Linked DNA regions of Homo sapiens. The protein of the gene in region 2 interacts with the protein of the main gene of each other region in a pairwise test. Each region holds a gene or a part of one and is shown on either strand. Other genes may lie near its edges.

Region 1 (5,486 bases), on a different chromosome or scaffold from region 2:
TCAGCCTGGCCAACATGGCAGGCTCTAATAAACCCTATCTCTAAGAAAAATACAAAAATTAATCGGTTGTGGTGGCATGCACCTGTAATCCCAGCTACTCAGGAGGCTGACGCAGGAGAATCACTTGAACCCGGGAGGCGGAGTTTATAGTGAGCCAAGACTGCACCACTGCATCAAGCCTGGGCGACTGAGCAAGACCCTGTCTCAAAAAAAAATTAGCCGGACATGGTGGCCCATGCCTGTAATCACACCTACTCGGGAGACTGGGGCTGGAGAATCGCTTAAATCCAGGAGGTAGAGATTGCAGTGAGCTGAGATCGTGCCACTGCACTCCAGCCTGGGGGACAGAGAGAGACTCCATCTCAAAAAAAAAAAAAAAAAACTAATGCCCTACAAATCTTACTATGGCAAAACTGGAAGAGTCTACAATGTTACCCAGCATTCTGTTGGCATTGTTGTAAACAAAAAAGGGAAAGATTCTTGCCAAGAGAATTAATGTGTATATTGAGCATATTAAGTACTCTTAAGAGCTGACAGCTTCCAGAAACGTGTGAAGGAAAATGATCAGAAAAAAAAGCCAGTGAGACCCTCATCTCTGCAAAAAATTAGCTAGGAATGGATGTGCATTCCTGTAGTCCCAGCCACTTGGGAGGCTGAGGTGGAGGATTGCTTTGAGCCCAGGAGTTCGAGGCTGCAGTGAGTTGTGATCACACCAACGCACCCCAGCCTGGGCAACAGTGCAAGACCCTATTTCAAAAAAAAAAAAAAAAAAGGAAACTAAATAAGAAAGGTACCTGGGTTCAATTGAAGCACCAGCCTACTCCACCAGTGGAAAACAGCCTGAGCTACTAGAACTTATTCCCTATGAATTCGTGGCATAATAGGGGTAAAAAAGACAAAAGGTGTAAAAACGTTTATCTTCATTGAGTAGAAGTGTGATGTCCTGGCCGGGCGCAGTGGCTCACACCTGTATTCCTAGCACTTTGGGAGGCTGAGGTGGGCGGATCACCTGAGGTCACTCGAGTTTGAGACCAGCCTGATCAACATGGTGAAACCCTGTCTCTACGAAAAATAAAAATTTAGCTGGATGTGGTGGCACACGCCTGTAGTCCCAGCTACTCAGGAGGCTGAGGCAGGAGAATTGCTTGAACCCAAGAGCAATTCTCGGCAGTGAGCCGAGATCGTGCCACTGTACTCCAGCCTGGGCGATACAGCGGAGACTCCGTCTCAAAAAAAAAAAAAAAAAAAAGAAAAAAAAGAAAAAAGAAAGAAGTGTGATGTCCCCTCCCCAAAGAAATATTCAAAGCAAAAAAAAAAAAAAATTACTTGCTGATTTTTCTGGAAAACTTTTAGAACGCTACCCTTCTGTCTTGGAAATACCACTTCCCCAATATCATACCCCACGAATGTTACTATAGTAAAACTGAAGAGTCTACAATGTTATCCCGCATTCTGTTGCATTGTTGTAAACAAACAAGGGCAAGATTCTTGTCAAGGGAATTAATGTGTGTACTGAGCATATTAAGCACTCTTATGAGCTGATAGCTTCCTGAAACTCGCCCCCCTTCTGTCTTGGAAATACCACTTCCTATTAAGAGGGGTTTACTACTTCACAAGCAATCCGTTCCTCTAGGTGAGTAACAATTCCAGAGTACTGCACTGGGCTTTCCCTTCCATCTGTCACTTCCTCACAGCCTTCTACATGAAGAGGAAGAGAAAACAAGAAGGAAAGAATAAAACAAGGAACACAGAGAAGTTGGAAATTTTTTGAATCTCTCTGAGGATATGTGAAACAAAAACTGCAGCAGCAGCAAAAAAAGACACCCAAACAAAGGACAAAGCTATCGTAAAGAGTATGCCAAAGACTGTGAAACAGAAGACGCTGAGAAGCACAAAGAAGGACGGTTTTTACTTTAAAAACTGGCAAATTTTAGAAGTCTGATTCCTTAAAATAAAAAAGTCCAAATCCAAAACAACCTGAAACATCAATAAACAAATCTTTGACCATCCCTATCTTCAGGAAATAAAACTAAACAACACTAATGTGGGTAGATGTAAAGAGAGAAAGGCGGCCAGGCGCGGTGGCTCACGCCTGTAATCCCAGCACTTTGGGAGGCCGAGGCGAGCGGACACCTAAGATTGGGAGTTCGAGACCAGCCTGACCAACATGGAGAAACCCCATCTCTACCAAAAATACAAAATTAGCCGGGCATGGTGGTGCATGCCTGTAATCCCAGCTGCTCGGGAGGCTGAGGCAGGAGAATCGCTTGAACCCGGGAGGCGGAGGTTGTGGTGAGCCGAGATCGCGCCATTGCACTCCAGCCTGGGCGACAAGAGCGAAACTCCGTCTCAATTAATAAATAAAGACAAAAAGGCTATACATAGATAAACTATTTGGATTAACCAATAATGAACATTATCTATTATTTTATAATCATAAAGTAAGTGATTTGGACAGGGAAATTGGATGGTGATGGGCTATTAAAGTTAACAAGAGGAAAATCAGTATTTTTTTAGAGAAGGCTTTCTAGTGGAGGTTAAACTCCACACTGGCCAAATAGCAACAGGAGCTTAGCGGTGTTCCAACCAACCACAGGAAATAGCTCAGAGGGGGAGTGAACTGATTATATGAATGGGGCATTGAGTAAGGGAGCCTGAGAGAAGGGGAATCGTCAAGGGGAATAAGGCTGGTTCAGCGTGCACTAAAGTCTCCAAACTGGAGAGAGGAGGCAGCAAAAAAGTGCAAGAAGAAAAAGTACAGTAGTTTCTTATCTCGACAGGCAAGTTAAGGACTAGGGGTTGCACTACCTGGAAAGCTAGCAAACGCCCTGGGAGTGAAAAATTTCCAGAGAGGGCCCTTCCTGGAAAAACGCAGCCCCGGTGTTCCCTGATTTCCTGGCTGGGTACCATCGGGCAGTGGACTGGAGAGGCGCAGGGATGTTTTAGGCAGGTGTCTCTTGGGTGTTGGCGTGGACTACATAGCGGAGGTTCAGCCGCGGGACTAGCATTGAGCGACAAGAAGGCGGCGGCGCGTGCAAACCACAAGACTTACCTTACTGTCATCCATCGCGGCAGACAGGCCGGCCTGGCCAGGCACTCCCTCCCGGAGCCCTCCCCCGGCTCAGCCGGCCTGGCCCGGCCCCCGCCCCGAGGAAGAAGGGGATATGGTTCTGGCTGCCTCCTCCTCTCGCCTAACAGTTCGCTTCCCTGATGCCAGAGTCACGGGGACGAGGGACCAGTTCAGGAATGGCAGAGCGGACCCTGGAGGCGGCCCCAAACGCCTCCCTTCGCCGCCGCCGCCTCCTCCTCCCCCTCCATGACAGTCTCTGGGTGTTTACAGACGCTCTGGAGAGCCGCCGAGACCGGAGGGTGGGCGGGAGCGCTGCACACGGAATGGCCCCTTCGGCTGCCGTAGCACCGCGGCATTCTGGGAATTGTGATTTTTCTTATCACAGTCTCTGCGCTACTGACTGGAAAAAAAACTACGATGTCCACATAGCCTCATTAAGGGGCAGCTGTTTTCCTTTTGCCTACTAGCTAGCGCTGAGGAGGCGGGGCTGGGCTGGAGGCCCAAAGTGCGCCTGACCTGAGGTTTTGGCTCCTAAGTGCCAGGGCCTGGAATGGCGGGGACGGGAGTTTGGTGCTCTGCGGAGGCAGCCCTGAAGGCGGGGTGCCGGAAGCAGGCCCTCCTCTGGGACGCTGAGGAAACCCTAAAGGTTCTTTATTTAAAAAAAAACGAAAAACAAAAACTAAGTATGTAAAATAGTGCAGCTACTTTGGGAAGAAATTTGGCAGTTCTTCAGAATATTGGCCACTCCCATACCCAAGAGAAATTAAAACGAGTGACTACACAAAAACTTGTATATAAATGTTCTTTCCTAGCAGCATTATTCATAATAGTCAAAAAGTGGAAACAACGCAAATGTCCTTTACTGGATGAATGGATAAACCAGTGTGGACTATACAAATTAAGAAATACTGGCCAGGGGTGGTGGGTCACGCCTGTAATCCCAGCACGTTGGGAGGCCGAGGCGGGAGGATTGCTTTAGCCCAAGAGTTCGAGACCAGCCTGGGCAACATAGCAAAACCTGTCTCTACAAAAAAATACAAAAATTAGTCGAGTGTGGTGGCACATGCCTGTAATCCCAGTTACTGGGGAGGCTGACATGAGAGGATCACTTGGGCCTGGGAGGCAGAGGCTGCAATAAGCCAAGATTGTACCACTGCACTCCAGCCTGGGCGACAGAGCCAGACACTGTATTTAAAAAAAAAAAAAAGAAGAAGAAGAATGAAAGAAGGAAGAAGAACGATGAAGGAAGAAGAAGGAGAAGAAGGAAGAAGAAAGAAGAAGGAAGAAGACCCATATAGTAAGATGCAGTCTCTACAAAAAAAATTAAAAATTAGTTGGGTGTGTTACAAAAAATTTAAAAATTACTTGGGTGTGGTGGTGGTGCTTGTAGTCCTAGCCACTCGGGAGGCCCAGGTGGGAGGATCGTTTGAGCCCTGGAGTTGGAGGCTGAAGTGAGCTGTGATCACGGCACTCCAGCCTGGGCAACAGAGCAAGACTCTGTCTCAAAAAAAAAGGAAAGAAATATTATTCAGCAATGAAAAAAAATGAAGGGATATACACACTTCAATATGTCTGAACCTTGAAAACTTTATGTGAAGTGAAAAAAGCCAGACACAATAGGCCACATATTGTATGATTCCATTTATAATGAAGTGTCTGGAACAGGCACATCTAAATAGACCAAAAAATCCATTAGTGGTTGCCAAGGGCTAGGGTTGAAGAATGGCAGGGATGGAGGGATCCTGGAAAGGAGAGTGACGGTTAATGAGTACTGGGTTTCTTTTTGAGGTGATGAAAATGATCTAAAATTCAGCCGGGCATGGTGGCTCACGCCTGTAATCCCAGCACTTTGGGAGGCCGAGGTGGGCTGATCACCTGAGGTCAGGAGTTCGAGACCAGCCTGACCAACATGGAGAAACCCATCTCTACTAAAAATACAAAGTTGGCCAGGCCTGGGAGAGCATACCTGTAATCCCAGCTACGTGGGAGGCTGAGGCAGGAGAATGGCTTAAACCCAGGAGGCGGAGGTTGCAGTGAGTTGAGACCGTGCCATTGCACTCCAGCCTGAGCAACAAGAGCGAAACTCCGACTCAAAAAAAAAAAAAAAAAAAAAGAAGAAAAGAAAATTATCTAAAATTGATTTTGGTGATGGTTGCACATCCTGTGAATATATTAAAAACCACTAAATTGTAGTTTAACTGTAGTTAAACCACTTTAAATGAGTGGATTATATCTCAATAAAGTTATTTTAAAAATAACTGGCTGTGTCCTCATTTAATAAAGTCAGTGAGCTTGTTTTTACTGTTGTTTTTGTTTTGGCCTACCTCGGGCCTTTGAGAACTTGACAAAGATTGCATATTTGTCAATGCTGCTCCTGAAGAGCCCTTTGGCTCACACCTTTTCAAAGACTCACAAA
Region 2 (4,856 bases):
TTGCTCATCGTAGATAAAACAGGGATAATGGTAACTAATTAATATAGTTGTGTTAATTAAATCAGTCAGTATATGTTCTTAAAACAGTGCTTGCCACACACAGTAACGCCAGTAATCCCTGCTACTTGGTTCTCCTGCTACTACTTCTGTTGCTGCTACTTGATCCTTACAGGATGTTTCTATACTTTACAAAACTCTTTGGTGTAACTTAAGTCTTCCCAATCCTCACAATAACACTGTTAAGATCAATAGGTTGGGTACTGAACTCAGGTTAGGTACTGAACTCATCAGGAGGCTGAGGTTGGAAAGTAGATTTGACAAGGTTAAGTAAAAGAAAGGCAAAGCTGGAACTCAAATCCAGATATTTTAATTCCTTGCTCAGTGTTTCCTTAAACCTGCCATAACTTTCCCAAGAACTGAGTACTCTGTACCTGGGAGTAGTTGGCAGATCCACTGGTTTCTGACTGGATGTGCTGGGCTGGCTGAATTGGGAGAAATTCACCTGTCTCTTCATCTAGTTGTAACTGAGCGAAAAAGGCTTTCTCTTGCTCCTTTTGGAGTTGTTCTTGTCTTTCCTTTTCAAGTTTTTTCTGTTTTTCCAGCTCATACTCTTTCCGTCGCTGACTGAAGTCAAATACTTCTCGACTTACTCCAAGATCTATATCTTGCCTCCAAAGTATGTCAATCAAATCCATGTCCTATGTTTAAGACAAAAAAAGGAAGGAGAGAGCTCATGTTTTTTAAATGACAGATACCACATAAATTAATTCACATTATGCCACTGTTGATGGTGGGAAGTGGGGAGATTACAAATACAATCTAAATGAGAACACAGATCCAATGTTCTAGAAGAGCACAGTTAATTCCATTCAATGAATCTATTCATTAAAGACAACAAACAACCTACAAACACATAGCCATCCATTCTAATCACTTGGATCATTAATGATAGGGTGATGGTAGAGGTCACTAAAGGGCAAAGTCACAAATGGTTTGAATGAGAAGAAATCCCACCCTTGTTTAATGGAATATAGAAATTAGAGCAAGCACTCTAAGCCACTGGCTTATATAAGAGAAGTGGGGTCTGGAAAACATTACTGAATACATGGAGTTTTCTTTAAACTTTGCTCAGCAAATATCCAGTTTATAGAGGGATAACTCTCAAGTTAAAGTGTCAATCTAGCAGTTGTGAAATATCACCATTCTTTCCATCTTTCCTACACTAGATTATCTTCTCCCCATCACTGCTTGCTACTCTTATCTCTGTGGCTTACCTATATGCCTGTAATCCCAGCACTTTGGGAGGCCAAGGTGGGTGGATCACCTGAGGTCTGGAGTTCGAGATCAGCCTGGCCAACATGGTGAAACCACGTCTCTACTAAAAATACAAAAATCAGCCGGGTGTGGTGGTACGTGCCTGTAATCCCAGCTACTCAGGAGGCTGAGGCAGGAGAATCGGCTTGAACCTGGGAGGCAGAGGTTGCAGTCAGCTGAGATCGCACCACTGCACTCCAGCCTGGGCAACAGAGCAAGACTCCATCTCAAAAAAAAATAAAATAAAAGCAGACAGGGACAGGTGCGGTGGCTCACGCCTACAAGCCCAGCACTTTGGGAGGCTGAGGCAGGTGGATTGCTTGAGCCCAGGAGTTCGCGACCAGCCTGGGCAACATGGAGAGACCCTGTTTCTACCAAAACAAAAACAAACAACAACAACAACAACTGGTGTGGTGGCGCACACCTGTGGTCCCAGCTACTCAGGAGGCTGAGGTAGGAGGATCACTTCAGTCCAGGAGGTCATGGCAGCAGTGAGCTATGATCGTGTCACTGCACTCCAGCCCGGGCAACAAAGTGAGACCCTGTCTCATAAATAAATAAATAAATAAATAAAACTATGGCTCCAGGGAAGGATTAAAGGTATTAAGTTTTAAGACATAGGAAGAATCTTACAAAGAGGGAATGGTTTTGATGAGGAGAGGCTGAGCTTGGTGACTCAGGCCTGTAATCCCAGGAGTTTGGGAGGCCAAGGCAGGAGGATTGCTGGAGCACAGGAGTTACTAGCCTGGGCACCATAGTGACACCTGTTTCTACCCAAAATCAAAACAAATTAGTTGCACGTGGTGATACGAGCCTGTAGTCCCAACTATTAGGGAGACTGAAGTGAGAGGATTGCTTGAGCCCAGGAAGTCAAGGCCATGGTGAGCTGTGATTGTACCACTGCACTCCAGCTTGGGTGACAAGACCCTGTTTCACACACACAAAAAGATACATGGGGAGAGAATTTATATGACTAGGCTAGGCATAGGAACCACATCCAGATTTTCCTAACCAAAAATGTGTCAATAGCAGTTTTTCTGATTTGTAATTTTAGTCTTTGGAAAAATCTAAATAGGTAGGAAATCTAAATCTGTTTCCATTCCACAAATCACCTATAGGGGAAATAATTAATTTGAGAATGGAAAAAAATCAAGATGGGGGAACGGGAGTTGGGACTTGAAGGCCAGTGGGTACAGTGTAGACACGTCACACTTTGCATTTCATTCTGCTGACAGCTGGCAACGCCAGACTTAGAGTTCTATTACTTTCAGCTTCCCAAGGACGCAAATAACATGGTGGTTGTTTCAGTGAGGAGTCAGGCTATTTTTATCCAACAGAGGAGCAGGCCACCCAGCCTGGAGGCAGCGCAGCTAGCTAGATGGCACAGGCCACCTGTGTCCATGATTGAAGGTTGGCGTTGGAATCTTAAATGCTATGAAACCCTGCTCATGGGGCTCATTATTCTAGCCTTGAACAATATATATTGTAAAGCACACAAAGTAGGCATAGTTAAAGTAGCACTTGTAGTTAGGTATACCTCACTAGGACATACCTAATTATCTTTAAGCCAGTATCTATTAAGGGCTTCCTATATGCTATGCACTGTTCTAAGTACTTTACATATAGAAACTATTCCTCAAAACAGCCTTATACAGAGAAAACATTCCTGTTATACAGTATAAGAATACTGAGGTTAAGAAAAAAGATACTACCAGAAAGTGGCTGAACAAAGACACATACCCAGGCAGCTTCAGTCGGGTTCATGCTTTATTAGCCATGAGCCTACACTATTATAAAATGGCATGGCATTTGCTGCAAATAACCTATGCATATCCCTTTATATACTTTAACTCATCCCTGGATTACTTACAATACCTAGTAAAGTGTAAATGCTGTGTAAATAGTTGTTATACTGTATTTTATGTGTGTATTGTTATTTTTTCGGGTTTTTTTTCCACTTTTTTCCTTTTGAAATTTTATTATTTATTTACTCATTTTGAGATAGGGTCTCACTCTGTCACCCAGGCTGGAGTGTGGTGATGCAATCATGGCTCACTGCAGCCTTCACCTGGGCTCAAGTGATCCTCCCACCTCAGCCTCCCAAGTAGCTGGGACTACAGGCACATGCCACCAAGCCCAGCTAATTACTTTTTGTAGAGATGGCGTCTTGCCATTTTGCCCAGGCTGGTCTTGAATTCCCGGGCTCCATTGATTTTCCTGCCTCAGCTTCCCAAAGTGCTAGGATTACAGGCATGAACCACTCCACTGTGCTTGGCCTTTTTCCAAATATTTTTGAACCAATCTGCCATTGGTTGCATCATGGAACCAGAGGCTGCATGGGCCGACTGTATATACACTTGGCTTTGGAATCTTGGTAGTATGAAGCGGCCAGTCTGCAGGTCAGATTAAGTCTGTAGGTCACCTAGATCAGTTTCCTGGCCAAGAGCAACAAAATAGCAACCACAGAGCATTCAGTCGACTATACATGGCTATCTTCTCAGGGGGATTCCCACTAAAATAGGTATGAGAATAATTTCTATTTTAAAAAATGATTTGTTTCCATTCTGATGGACATGTTTACCCAAAGGTTATCATGGGAGACAGAAAATTCAAAGGTATAGAGAAACCTACTTTATTTTATTTTTTTTTGAGACGGAGTCTCGCTCTGTCGCCCAGGCTGGAGTGCAGTGGCACAATCTCAGCTCACTGCAACTTCCGCCTCCAGGGTTCAAGCAGTTCTCTCACCTCAGCCTCCTGAATAGCTGGGATTACAGGTGCGTGCCACCATGCCCGGCTAATTTTTCTATTTTTAGTAGAGACAGGATTTCGCCATGTTGGCCAGGCTGGTCTCGAACCCCTGACCTCAAGTGATCTGCCTGCCTCGGCCTCCCAAAGTGCTGGGATTACAGGTGTGAGCCACCACGCCCAGCTGAGAAACCTACTTTAAAATTCTGATTAGCTTGGGCCGCTTCTTCTCAGTAAATCTAGATACATAGCAGGGTATCCTGTCTAGACTTTCTGCAAACTGGAGCTATCTGCCCAAGCAAGGTATTAAGTGTTCAATATGTTCCCATCTTCTAGGTACTAGCACCAAAAATGAAAGGAATGCATGATCCTGCGATCTTAATTGAACTCTGTAAAATAGGCAGTCCATGTTCCCACCCATCTCAAGAAGTGATGTGCAAAGTGTGCAAAGCTCTTTGCAAAGTCAATCAAAGAAACTCAAATACTTGTCCCTGTACGTGGGGAAAAGTGTACTTTGACACATCCCTGCCTCACCCTAGACTTCCTGGGCCTGAGGTTTTTTCTTGTTAAGGAGATCCCAGGATAAAAATCAGTAAAAGGTTGTGACTTTTTCATGCAACTGAAGCAATTTAGGTTGCAAACATCTTCTGCTCATAAATCTGACTTGCAAAGTATCCTTACAACCAACCCTCATGAGCTGGAAGAAAATATTGAATGGAATTTATAATTGTCAGTGTCAATCATGCCAAGAATTGAAATAACTATTTAATTTCCTTTCCCCCCCTTTTCCTTCCCAT
Region 3 (4,856 bases), on a different chromosome or scaffold from region 2:
ACGCCAAAAGGGACCCAGCTTAAAGACTGTTCACTGCCAAACCTAGTATTTGGGGACAGAAAGACTAGACTAAATTAGTAAAAAGTTAGAATTATAGCCTATTAAAAAACAAACACATTTTTATTGATTTTCCAAACATACAGGAACCAAACTAATAAAGTGTTGCTTACTGGGGCATCTCAGGGAACGTTCCAATGAATAGGCAAGAATGTGTTCCACATTATCCATTGGGTAGAAACTAGTGCTACGATGTGCTTGGAACTGTTCCTTTAGTGTCAAAATATTACCACACATTTTATTTGCTCTGTTAATTTGTTTGATAACCTTTTCTTCTTAGTAAAAATACAGAGTTCAGCCTGGTCGTTGTCTAAATGATCTGGAATTCCCAGAGTGTGGACGAGGGGCTTGATTAGAAAAGGTATTGCCCCGTGTTAAGTGTGGACTCTCAGATGAGCATAACTGCTCACTCAGCCCTATGGATTTCGCTTACAGGAAACGGTAGAATGCTTGCATTTCTGAAACTTTGTAAATTCTCTGTAATTAAAGGTGTTCGTCTGCTGTTTTAGTGGCCGTTGTTCTACAACAACCAGTTGTAGCTTACAGCTATATAGTGATTTATTACAAAACACTTTCTTCTTCTCCTTTTCCTTCTTCCTCTTCCTCCTCCTCTTCTTCTTCCTCCTCCATCATCATCACCGGCATCATTTATTGAATGCTACTGCATGCTGGTCCTTGTGCTGTTTTATATACATTATATACATTATCTCATTTACTCTTCACAGCTCTCTATGGATGCAGTTTTTCTCTCCATTCTACAAATGAGGAAACTGAAGCCCAGAGAGGTTAAGTGATGTATTGGCCTAAGACCTCGCAGGCTGTAAGTGGCAAAGCTAAGGCCAGAATCTCTACTGTGGGACTCTAATTCCAAAGTATTTTCTATGAGGGCATTCCAAAGTGCAGCCATTTTTGCGAAGAAAATTAGGAAACTTGAAGTGACGGGTGGCTGGTGGATTGTTACATAAGCCGAGATGAGAGGCAGGAATAGAGCTGGCAGAAGTGCTTGCAGAGGTTCTGAATTTCCTCTGCTTCCTGGTCTCTTCTGAAGATGGGTCTTCCTAGCCATTACACAAGTAGCGGGGACAACCAGATGGTCACACAAAGCCACCACCCACTGTGGAATGAATGTCTAAGTTTTCCATATTTACCCCAGTCTCTAATGTCCTCTGGTGAAATTTTGTCTTTGATGGGTTTCATTTTGGGCCCTTGTTGTTTTTCTCAGATGCCTTTCTTTTCCTTGTGTTTTTCTTGCTTCCTCCGGTGCTTAATGGCTTCTTCATGAAGCGGTTGGAAATCTGAGAGATTGTGTCATCCTGCCCGGCCTCGGGCTAGACACCTTCTTTGCCTGCTTTTTACTTCCTGGTCAGTTGCTTCTCCTTATACAACTTTTTTTTTTTTCCTTTTAAAGCTTTTCACACAATCCATAAACACAAATTTTTGTTTTTCTTAAACCATCTCTCATGTACATCTTTAATATTATGTGATTTCCAGGAATCTATTTCAGATATTCCCTCATTTTCCCCTATAACAAAAGGAATCATCTTTTTTTGACTCCTGTCTCGATGGCTTGACCCAACTCGCCTGTTCTAATTTCCTGGAATGAAGAGAGCATTTCGGCCATCTGACTTTATACATTTCTGATTTTGAACGACTCTAGTGAAGAGAGTCTTCAGAGCAAATGTAGGGAAAGAAACAGAGAAAGAGAGAGATGTGTTGTGGAGATAATATGAGGGGATTCAGAGAGCATTATCCAAATTTGTCATGAAGCAAATGAGGAAACTGAGTCTTGTGGCGTTTAAAGAGCTTGCCTGAGATCACATTCCTAACTGATCAAGCCAGAGTCAGAATCAGTGTTCCATCCTAGGTCCATGTTCCTCTAACACCATAGCAGAGGAAAAATGAGAAAAAACAGGCAAGAATTCAGAAAGCATAGCTTCCTTTTGAAGATTCACATGACATATTAGTGTTCATCATTGTGACTTCCAAGTGAAAGACAGAGTTCATGTTATGAGATTTAAGAAGTGAAGAAAGAATGCAATGTATTTTGGAAAGATATCTAACAAAAATGGTTGGCATAAGAATAATGTTAAGTTTTAAAAGGCTAAGCTTCAGTTACGTGGATGAATGATTTATGAAAAGTACTCCCCCATGAAGACACAAAAGAGGTAGCCAATGCATCTGCAAGTTCTTGAGGCCTGATGGCCTCCCTGGGGGTATTTTCCCTTTGTATGTGGGAGTCAGATATACGGAAAACGACTTCATTTCCTGAATGACCCAAAAAGGACGCATTGCCCTGCTGAGTGCCAGTTGGTGAGTGTGCTCAATGGTGTTAGTGTTGCCACAGTGTAGTTCCAGTCACCACGTCTTTCGATTTTGACTTACATTTTCTTCTGTCTTATGTTGTTCTTTGGTTCTTACCTGTAAAGCTGACTTCCCTTCAGGAGATTGTAAGGTGCTCAGAAAAGGGCTTTACCTCACTGCCATGCTGTGAATTCTCCTAGGGGAAGAGTACAGACAATGGAGTAGACAGACCCATGAATCCTGGTTCCTGAACTTGAACTTGTTCAAGCTACTTAATCATGAACCTGTTAACTCATCTGAAGTGGTAATAAAAATGTGTCTCTTAGGGTTGTTGGGATATGTACATTGCCCAATGTAGTGCTTTATACTGTTAAAAAGTTAGTTCTCCTCCTCCTTTATACATCCTCCATAACACATGGATCTGGAAGAGGCTAGAGATTTTCTGGTTCTGTGCCCACATTATACAGTTGAGAATACAGAGGCCAGGGGATGGTTTGTTTTTGTTTTTGTTTTTGAGACAGAGTCTCGCTCTGTCACCCAGGCTGGAGTGCAATGCCGAGATCTCAGCTCACTGCAACCTCTGCCTCCCAGGTTCAAGCAATTCTGCTGCCTCAGCCTCCTGAGTAGCTGGGATTACAGCTGTGCACCACTCACCTGGCCAATTTTTGTATTTTTGGTAGAGACAGGGTTTCACCATGGTGGCCAGGGTGGACTCAAACTCCCGACTTCAATTGATCCTCCTGCCTCGGCCTCTGAAAGTGCTGGGATTACAGGCGTGAGCCACTGTCCCCGGCCCCCGGCCAGGGATGTTAATGGCCTTGCTCAAGCTCGTGTGGCTAGTTGGTGGTGCCATCTGAACTAAAATCTAGGCCTCCCGAGTCAGCTGACTCCCTGCACAGTGCTCTTGTCACTGTCCCATTGAGTTGTTCACAGGGCTGGGGTCACTCAGTCAGTGCTCAAAAAAGCTCTTATTTTAACTTTAATTGAATACAAGCCTCAACAATAGGAGAGATGAGCCAAGTGCAATTATATGATAATAGCAAATGCCTTTTGCATCTTACAGCAGAATTTTGAAGGAATAGCTAATGTGGTTCTGAATAAGTTTCCAGAGATGAAAGAAAAGGAAAAAACCTAAGTCTGGAAGTACTGTACAGTGAGTCTAACTAGCATTATTACTCAGCGCTCAAGTATTTGAACCTATTCAGGGATCTGCTCCTTCATACAGTTGCTTATTATTTGTGACTGGGGTGAGACTTGAAAGAGAGCATCAATTCTCCAGTCTGCTTTTGTTTAACAGGCAGTTCCATGTCTGTCTGACCACAGAACAGACACTGTTTGCTGTGGGCTGGTGAATGTTCACTTTCAAGAGCAGGGAGTAGATGGCCCTTCGTGGAAGTTTAATTATACAGAAGAGTTTGAAAAGGCCAAGTTTGTTACTTTGGGGCATGGGGAAACCTTCCTCTCTAGCAGATGTGAGGGGACCGAAGTGTCTCTTTTCAGCAGTTGTATTCTTCTTGCTGTGGACCTAAATTCGATCCTAAGTCATTCTTTGTATGTACATGGCAGATGAGAAGATGAACTATAGACTGGAAAATAACCCTTTTTTGAGGAATTGTGGAGAAAATGTTACCCACCTGTCCCTCCTACCACCATGCAATAAGTGTGGGCTACTTAATACTCTTGAAGCAAGAGTTTAGGTTTGGAGAGAAACTGCTCCTCTGATCTTCTCCTGGAAACCACAAGTGGAAGTTTGTGATTTTCTTCTCAGCTGCCCTGTCCCCTCTCCCTTGGGTTATGACAGGCCGTGTAACTTTATCTTTCTTAGGACTTATCTCTTTGATGAGGTCAGTAATCCTGCTTCACTTACGTCCCCTATACGTAAGATTGCCATAACCAAAGATGACATGCAGACTCTAAAGCATTTCCTGGAAAAAATGAGCTACAGATAGAAGTAAGGCTCGTAATTTAAAAAATCGAACCCCAGAGAACAGCCTGTCTCTGAAGTTAACCATTCCCCCAGTACTTTCTCTTGTTTCCCTGGTGAAAGTGTGAATCTGGGTTGTGGCAGGGGAAGTTCTGGCACTGCTAAGAGGTGAGGAAGGAAGAGGGAGGGCCCAGAGCTGCCCACCTCACTTGCAGGTGTGGCCTGGAAGAGTGCCGGGGTCTCTAATGAAGAATCAAGTTCAAGGGATGAAGAGGAGTTGGCGAAGGGGCACAAAAATACAGCTAGATAGAAGGAATGTGTTATAGTATTCATTAGTATAATAGGGAAATTAGAGTTAACAATTTATTGTGTATTTCAAAATAACTAGAAGAATTGTACTGTTCCTAACACAAAAGAAAAATGTTTGAGGCAATAGATATGCCAGCTACCCTGATCTGATCATTACACATCTGCACAGATATCAAAATGTCACATGTACCCCCAAAATATGTACAACTATTATATATCAACAAAAAAAATCAAAGAGACAATTTAGAATAAGTATGGTCTCAAG
Region 4 (5,490 bases), on a different chromosome or scaffold from region 2:
TCACCACAACCTTCGCCTCCCGTGTTCAAGCGATTCTCCTGCCTCAGCCTCCCAAGTAGCTGGGATTACAGGCATGCGCTACCATGCCCGGCTAATTTTGTTTTAGTAGAGACAGGGTTTCTCCATGTTGGTCAGGCTTGTCTTGAACTCCCGACCTCAGGTGATCCATCCACCTTGGCCTCCCAAAGTGCTGGGATTACAGGCATAAGCCACAGGGCCTGGCCAGAGATAACATTTGAAAGTGTCTTTACAGCCATGCGCAGTGGGATCACGCCTGTATCCTAGCACTTTGGGAGTCCGAGGCGGGCAAATCACCTGAGGTCAGGAGTTTGAGACCAGTCTGACCAACATGGTGAAACCCCGTCTCTACTAAAAATACAAAAAATCAGTCAGGAATAGTGGTGCATGCCTGTAATCCCAGCTACTTGGGAGGCTGAGGCAGGAGAATTGCTTGAACCTTGGAGGCGGAGGTTTGTAATGAGACGAGACTGTACCACTACACTCCAGCCTGGACAACGAGGGCGAAAGTCTGTCTCGAAAGAAAAAAAAAGTGTCTTTACAGTGTTCCTGGCACACTGTAGGCATCATTGTTACTGTGGGCTCACTGAAAGTATGAACTGATTTATTTCCAGATCTCAAGGGCCCAACAAGGGGTAGGCAGACGGTGGACTATGGGAAAATATATATACTAACTGTAGAATATTGGATTTGCAAACAGATTCAGGTTAGGTTTATTAGAAAGGGCCTGGAGCTGTCTTTTCAGGACCCTTTTCAGAGCAACCATTTCAAGAGACCTTTATTCCTGAATAAGCAGAAAAGACTGAAGGCAGGTTTTCTGGGAGGAAGGAGAGGGGTGGAGTTGAAGAAGAAAGACTGCTCCTATTCAAAGGAAAACTAATCAATTAGTGGGGACTGGATCTACCCAATTGTCTCAGTCACAAAGTTACACATGTGGATATCCAAGAGAGGGCAATTAAAAAAAGAGAAGAGAGCAATGTGACAAGGTTGGAAGGAAATCAAAGTGACAGGGAGGCTAATCAGGGAAGTGGGAGATAAAATCATGACAAGCTCATGATGGGTTTTCAAAATTGAGGGAGACAATTTTGAACTCTGGATTTATAAGTGAAAAGGAGAAATCAAATATGATTAAGTTGGAAATAAACCAGCCACACATGGACTCCCAGACCAAATAGCAGCTTGTTGGTCCAATAAAAATGAACACACCCAGTGAGTTAAGAAGGTGGAGGTTTTGACAAACAACTTGGTCATGGCTTTCTAATACAAATTAATCTGAATTCCTGCAACTGCTTTCTATACCAGGCTTTGGTTTAAAACCAACTGAGAAGTAAGAAAGTCAAGCCTTGGTGGGCTGGGTGGGCCAGATGGCCTTCCTGCTCTCCTCCCTTGAGATCTGGACTCCTCACTCTGTTCAGAAATGACTGTGACCCATGTCGGGTGGGGTCATTTGGGATCAAAGGAGGCAGGAGAAGGCAGGAGATAGAAAAGCAGCCATAGTGAAAGACAGGCAACAATAAGTTCCAGGTTTTGCCTGGCCTAAGCAATAAAGGATACTTTAAATCAGTGTTTTTGTAAGGTGGAATTTTAAATTGTAAGAGATAAAGGACTAGTCCATCACTCAGGTCATGCAACAGTGGCTGCCAGCATGATACAGTAGAAAGAGCACCAAACTGAGGGTCAAAAGTTATAGCTGTGTGACCTTGAGGAAGCACCCTCACCTCCCTGAGCCTCAATTTTCCTCATCTGGGAAGAGGGGAGAATACCCTCTAGGACTGTTAATGAAATAAGATGATGTCAGCGTGCTTTGCGAGCACTCTACGAATATCGGGTAGAATTCTTGTTATGGATGGTTATTACCTGGTAATTTCAAACAAGAAACTGTCAGATGTGTACACCTGTCCCTGCAGCTTGTCTCAGCCCCAGATTTGGAACAAAGCACCGTCTCAAAAACAAACAAAAGGGTTTGTGCACATGAGGTCCCAAAGCAGGAGGAGAGAGGCTGGCCTCACCTGATGTGCTGAAGCTATTTATAACTCAACAGTGACAGCCACAGGGATGGGAGCCTCAGCATACACCCAGGAAAGGAAGAGAAATGGCATTTTAAAAAGGAAAATCCATTCCCCAGGCCAGACAACTCTCGAAGGCCTATCCCTTTCCCAAACCCTGAATAACTGATGGCTCTTGGAAATGCAAAGGTCTCACACTCAAAGTATACCTCAGTGCACCCACAACCCCACCACAGGCGGCCCTCCTGCTGCTCCCTGCACCCCATCTCCCAGGGCGAAAAACAAGGCCAGACCTGCTTTCCGTATACGCCCCAGTGACGTTCCTGGCCTAGGCAAAAAGATGAAGCTCAGTCCTGCCGCCGTGGCCCCAGAATCTAAGGGTCAGCCCCAACCAACCAGGCGAAGGGCCTCAGTGGACTCATCTGACCCTCATCGTTTCTCTGCTTGGCCCAAAACTCCCCTCCCAAGGCGCCTCACACTACTCGCCCACACCCCCCCCACCCGCTCAGCAGAAGCCCCGCAACAGAAAGGCTCCCGTTGGACCTAGTAGCTGGCGCTACTCACACCCAGGGAGGAAGCCAGGTCCCTCCGGGAGGGGTAAGGCCACGTACGATGACAGTTCGCTACCCTAGGCCTGCGCTTCCTAAACTTTGGTGTACTTGGAAAATAATGGGGGTGCGGTGGGGTGCTCCTTAAAATGCAAGACCCCTGTCCCAGTGACCGCAGATTGGGTGGGGCGCAGGAACCAGCAATTTAAACAGGCATCCCGAGTGACTCCGATGCAGGTGGCCCCGGGGGAGGGGCCCTGGAGCGTCATTTAAGTGACTGCTCCCGATCCCCTTCCGCCTCCTCAAAACCTCTCCCCACCCTCTCCCGCCAGACCCACCGTCTCAGCCCGCCCCTGACCCTCTGTCCTCAGCCCCCCGGCCTCGTCCTCCAGGCTCCTGGTCATCCAGGCCCCATCCCCCTCCGCTGGACCACTGCTCCCTGACCCACTGCCTCCCCGGCCCCGCCCTCACGAGGCCCCGCCCCTGTATAAGCCCCGCCCCCAGCCCGCGCGGACCACCCCCCCGCCCTCACCGAGGCGCGCCTCGCGCGGGGGGTTCTCCATCAGCTTCTTCAGGACCAGGGGGAAGGACCCCGACAGGCCCCTTTCCCCAGCTGCGCGCCCCGGCCCCGGACCGGGTCCTGCCTGCGGGTCCACAGGCGGCTTCTTTCCGCCGCCCGCGTCGGACATCGTGCCCCGGACTCGGCTCGCGCACCTCGCCTCCCCCGCCCGCCCCCCGAGATGGGCCGGAGCCGTGCGACCCGCTGCAGCTGCCGACACGGGCAGCTACTGCGCAGGCGCCCAATGGCGCCCCCGCCTCCTTCCATCGCTACCCCGCCTGCGGACCGGCTCTGGCACATTAATTATTCATGAGGCCAGGCCAGCTTCCCCGGATCGTTGCTCTGGATTGGTCCAGCCTGCGAGAGGGGCAGGCGCAGATCCTCGGGCCGTGATTGGTCGGGCAGCCGGGATAAGATAGACACGTGCGGGGCCAGGTGAGGACCCTCGCGGAGGCCCCGCCCCGCCGCCCCTGTGTCCCCTGATTGGCGCCTGCTGGAGTCTTTGTGGTGGGCCTTCCTCGGCGCGGTCCCTTCCCTCCTACCAGTGTTCCCCCTTCACCGCCCTCTTCATAACCCCCGCCCTCCCCAACCACCGCAGCCTCTCCCTCTTGTCCCCGACTTGCAACCTTCCCGACGCGCCACCGAAGAGGGGCGGAGCTCGGAGCGGCCAGGCCGGCCAAAGCGACCTATCCGAGCTCCTGCTCGCGCGGCGTGTCCACCCCCCGCGGGTCACGTGGAGCCGCAGCCGAGTCTGGTCGCGGGGGGAGGGGGCAGAGGAGGAAGGCGCGGGAACAGCCAATGGAGGGCGGGGGCGGGGCCCGGGGCGGTGCACGAGGCGCCGCACGTGCGGGGCTGTGGCGGGGCGGGAGGGGAAGGGAGGGACGGGTCTTTTTGTTCTGGGGACTCTGCCCAGGGTCGCGGGGCAGGGACGCTGAGCTTAGCCCGCACTTCTGCTCCCACGCGACCCAGAGGTCGCCTGAGGGCAGGGCCGGGGACCGCGACCTGCCAAGTCGTAGGGATGGCCTGAGCAGGCTTGGCCGCCCTAGAGCGGGGTGTCGGGTTGCCCACGCATCCAGATCAACACTAGCGTGGAGGGAGCATTCCTGAAGCTCTGACCTGAGCCAGGGCCCGAGTACATGTTTCCGCCCTCCCACTTACTAGCTTATGACCTTGGGAAAGTCCGGTTGCTTCACTGGAGCTTGTTTCCTCGGCCATAAAATTAAGAGGTTGGGCTAGAGAATCTCCACAGTCCCAAACAGATGTGAAATTCTTTTCCTTTCTAGAACTCTCCCTTCTTTTACCTAGAAAACAAAAACCTCCTTGACACCAGGTACCGATGCCACGTTTTGTGGGAGAACCACCTCCTCTCTTAAAATATAAAGCCTCCCCGGGAGTTCCGCAGAAATCCGTAAAAATGTAATATGTGGCGCGGTACACAAATGGAAAGCTGCTCCTAAACAGCGCTCAGAACTTTGTACCTCTTTATAGTACAGATCAGACTCCGCTGCAAACCCAGGCAACATTAGACTCCCCGCTTAACTCCCGGAAGGCAGAGAGCTTGGCTTGTTTATCCAGCATCCCTACAGTGGCCCAGCCCTTCTAGCAGGAGGGGTTGGGGGGGTGGTATAGTGATAGTCCTTGGTTCAGGGGGTAGATGCATGATCCAGACACCCACAGCCAGCTAAAAGTTATCAAGCTGATGCAATCAGAATTTTGCTGGGGCTGGGCTTGGTGACTCACGCCTGTAATCCCGGCACTTTGGGAGGCAGAGGTGGCGGATCACCTGAGGTCAGGAGTTCGAGACCAGCCTGGCCAACAGGGCGAAACTCCGACACTACTGTAAGTACAGAAATAATTAGACGGGCATGGTGGCTGGCGCCTGTAATCCCAGGTACTGGGGAAGCTGAGGCACGAGAATCGGTTTGAACCTGGGAGGTGGAGGTTTCAGGGAGCCGAGATCGCGCCACTGCAGTCAAGCCTGGGCGACAGAGGGAGACTCCATGTCAAAAAAATAAATAAATAAAAATAATTTTGCGGCGGGGTAAGGAGGAAAAAGAAGTTGGGTAGCTGACCAGGCCTGGAAAGCAAGAGATTTGAAGGACTTTGGGTGGTGGTAGAGACAGGATGATAGGTCTGATTCCAAAATTCAAGCTCTCACTGCCACTGTAATTGAACCTCAGTCATTTTCTGAATCTGATGCCTCGATTGCTTTACCTTTTCAGGCCTCCTTTTCTTTTTATTTTCTTTTCTTTTCTTTTCTTTTTTTCTTTTTTTTTTTTTTGAGACGGAGTTTTGCTGTTGTTGCCCAGGCTGGAGTGCAATGGCGCGATCTCGGCTCACCGCAACCTCCGCCTCCCAG

Evidence for each region.
Region 1: the proteins of NFE2L2 (region 2) and CREBL2 interact in binary tests that used the Homo sapiens proteins (3 or more experiments, as listed by UniProt).
Region 3: the proteins of NFE2L2 (region 2) and ETV6 interact in binary tests that used the Homo sapiens proteins (3 or more experiments, as listed by UniProt).
Region 4: the proteins of NFE2L2 (region 2) and TEF interact in binary tests that used the Homo sapiens proteins (3 or more experiments, as listed by UniProt).

The regions. Positions count from the first base shown.
Region 1 is NC_000012.12:12,609,754-12,615,239, reverse strand, and holds the start of CREBL2 (cAMP-responsive element-binding protein-like 2), read right to left. Parts: upstream 3,365-5,486; 5' UTR 3,068-3,364; coding exon 3,053-3,067; intron 1-3,052. UniProt on the Homo sapiens protein: Probable regulator of CREB1 transcriptional activity which is involved in adipose cells differentiation. May also play a regulatory role in the cell cycle.
Region 2 is NC_000002.12:177,233,574-177,238,429, forward strand, and holds part of NFE2L2 (nuclear factor erythroid 2-related factor 2), read right to left. Parts: intron 699-4,856; coding exon 432-698; intron 1-431.
Region 3 is NC_000012.12:11,655,382-11,660,237, forward strand, and holds part of ETV6 (transcription factor ETV6), read left to right. Parts: intron 1-4,856. UniProt on the Homo sapiens protein: Transcriptional repressor; binds to the DNA sequence 5'-CCGGAAGT-3'. Plays a role in hematopoiesis and malignant transformation.
Region 4 is NC_000022.11:41,379,816-41,385,305, reverse strand, and holds the start of TEF (thyrotroph embryonic factor), read right to left. Parts: upstream 3,365-5,490; 5' UTR 3,262-3,364; coding exon 3,105-3,261; intron 1-3,104. UniProt on the Homo sapiens protein: Transcription factor that binds to and transactivates the TSHB promoter. Binds to a minimal DNA-binding sequence 5'-[TC][AG][AG]TTA[TC][AG]-3'.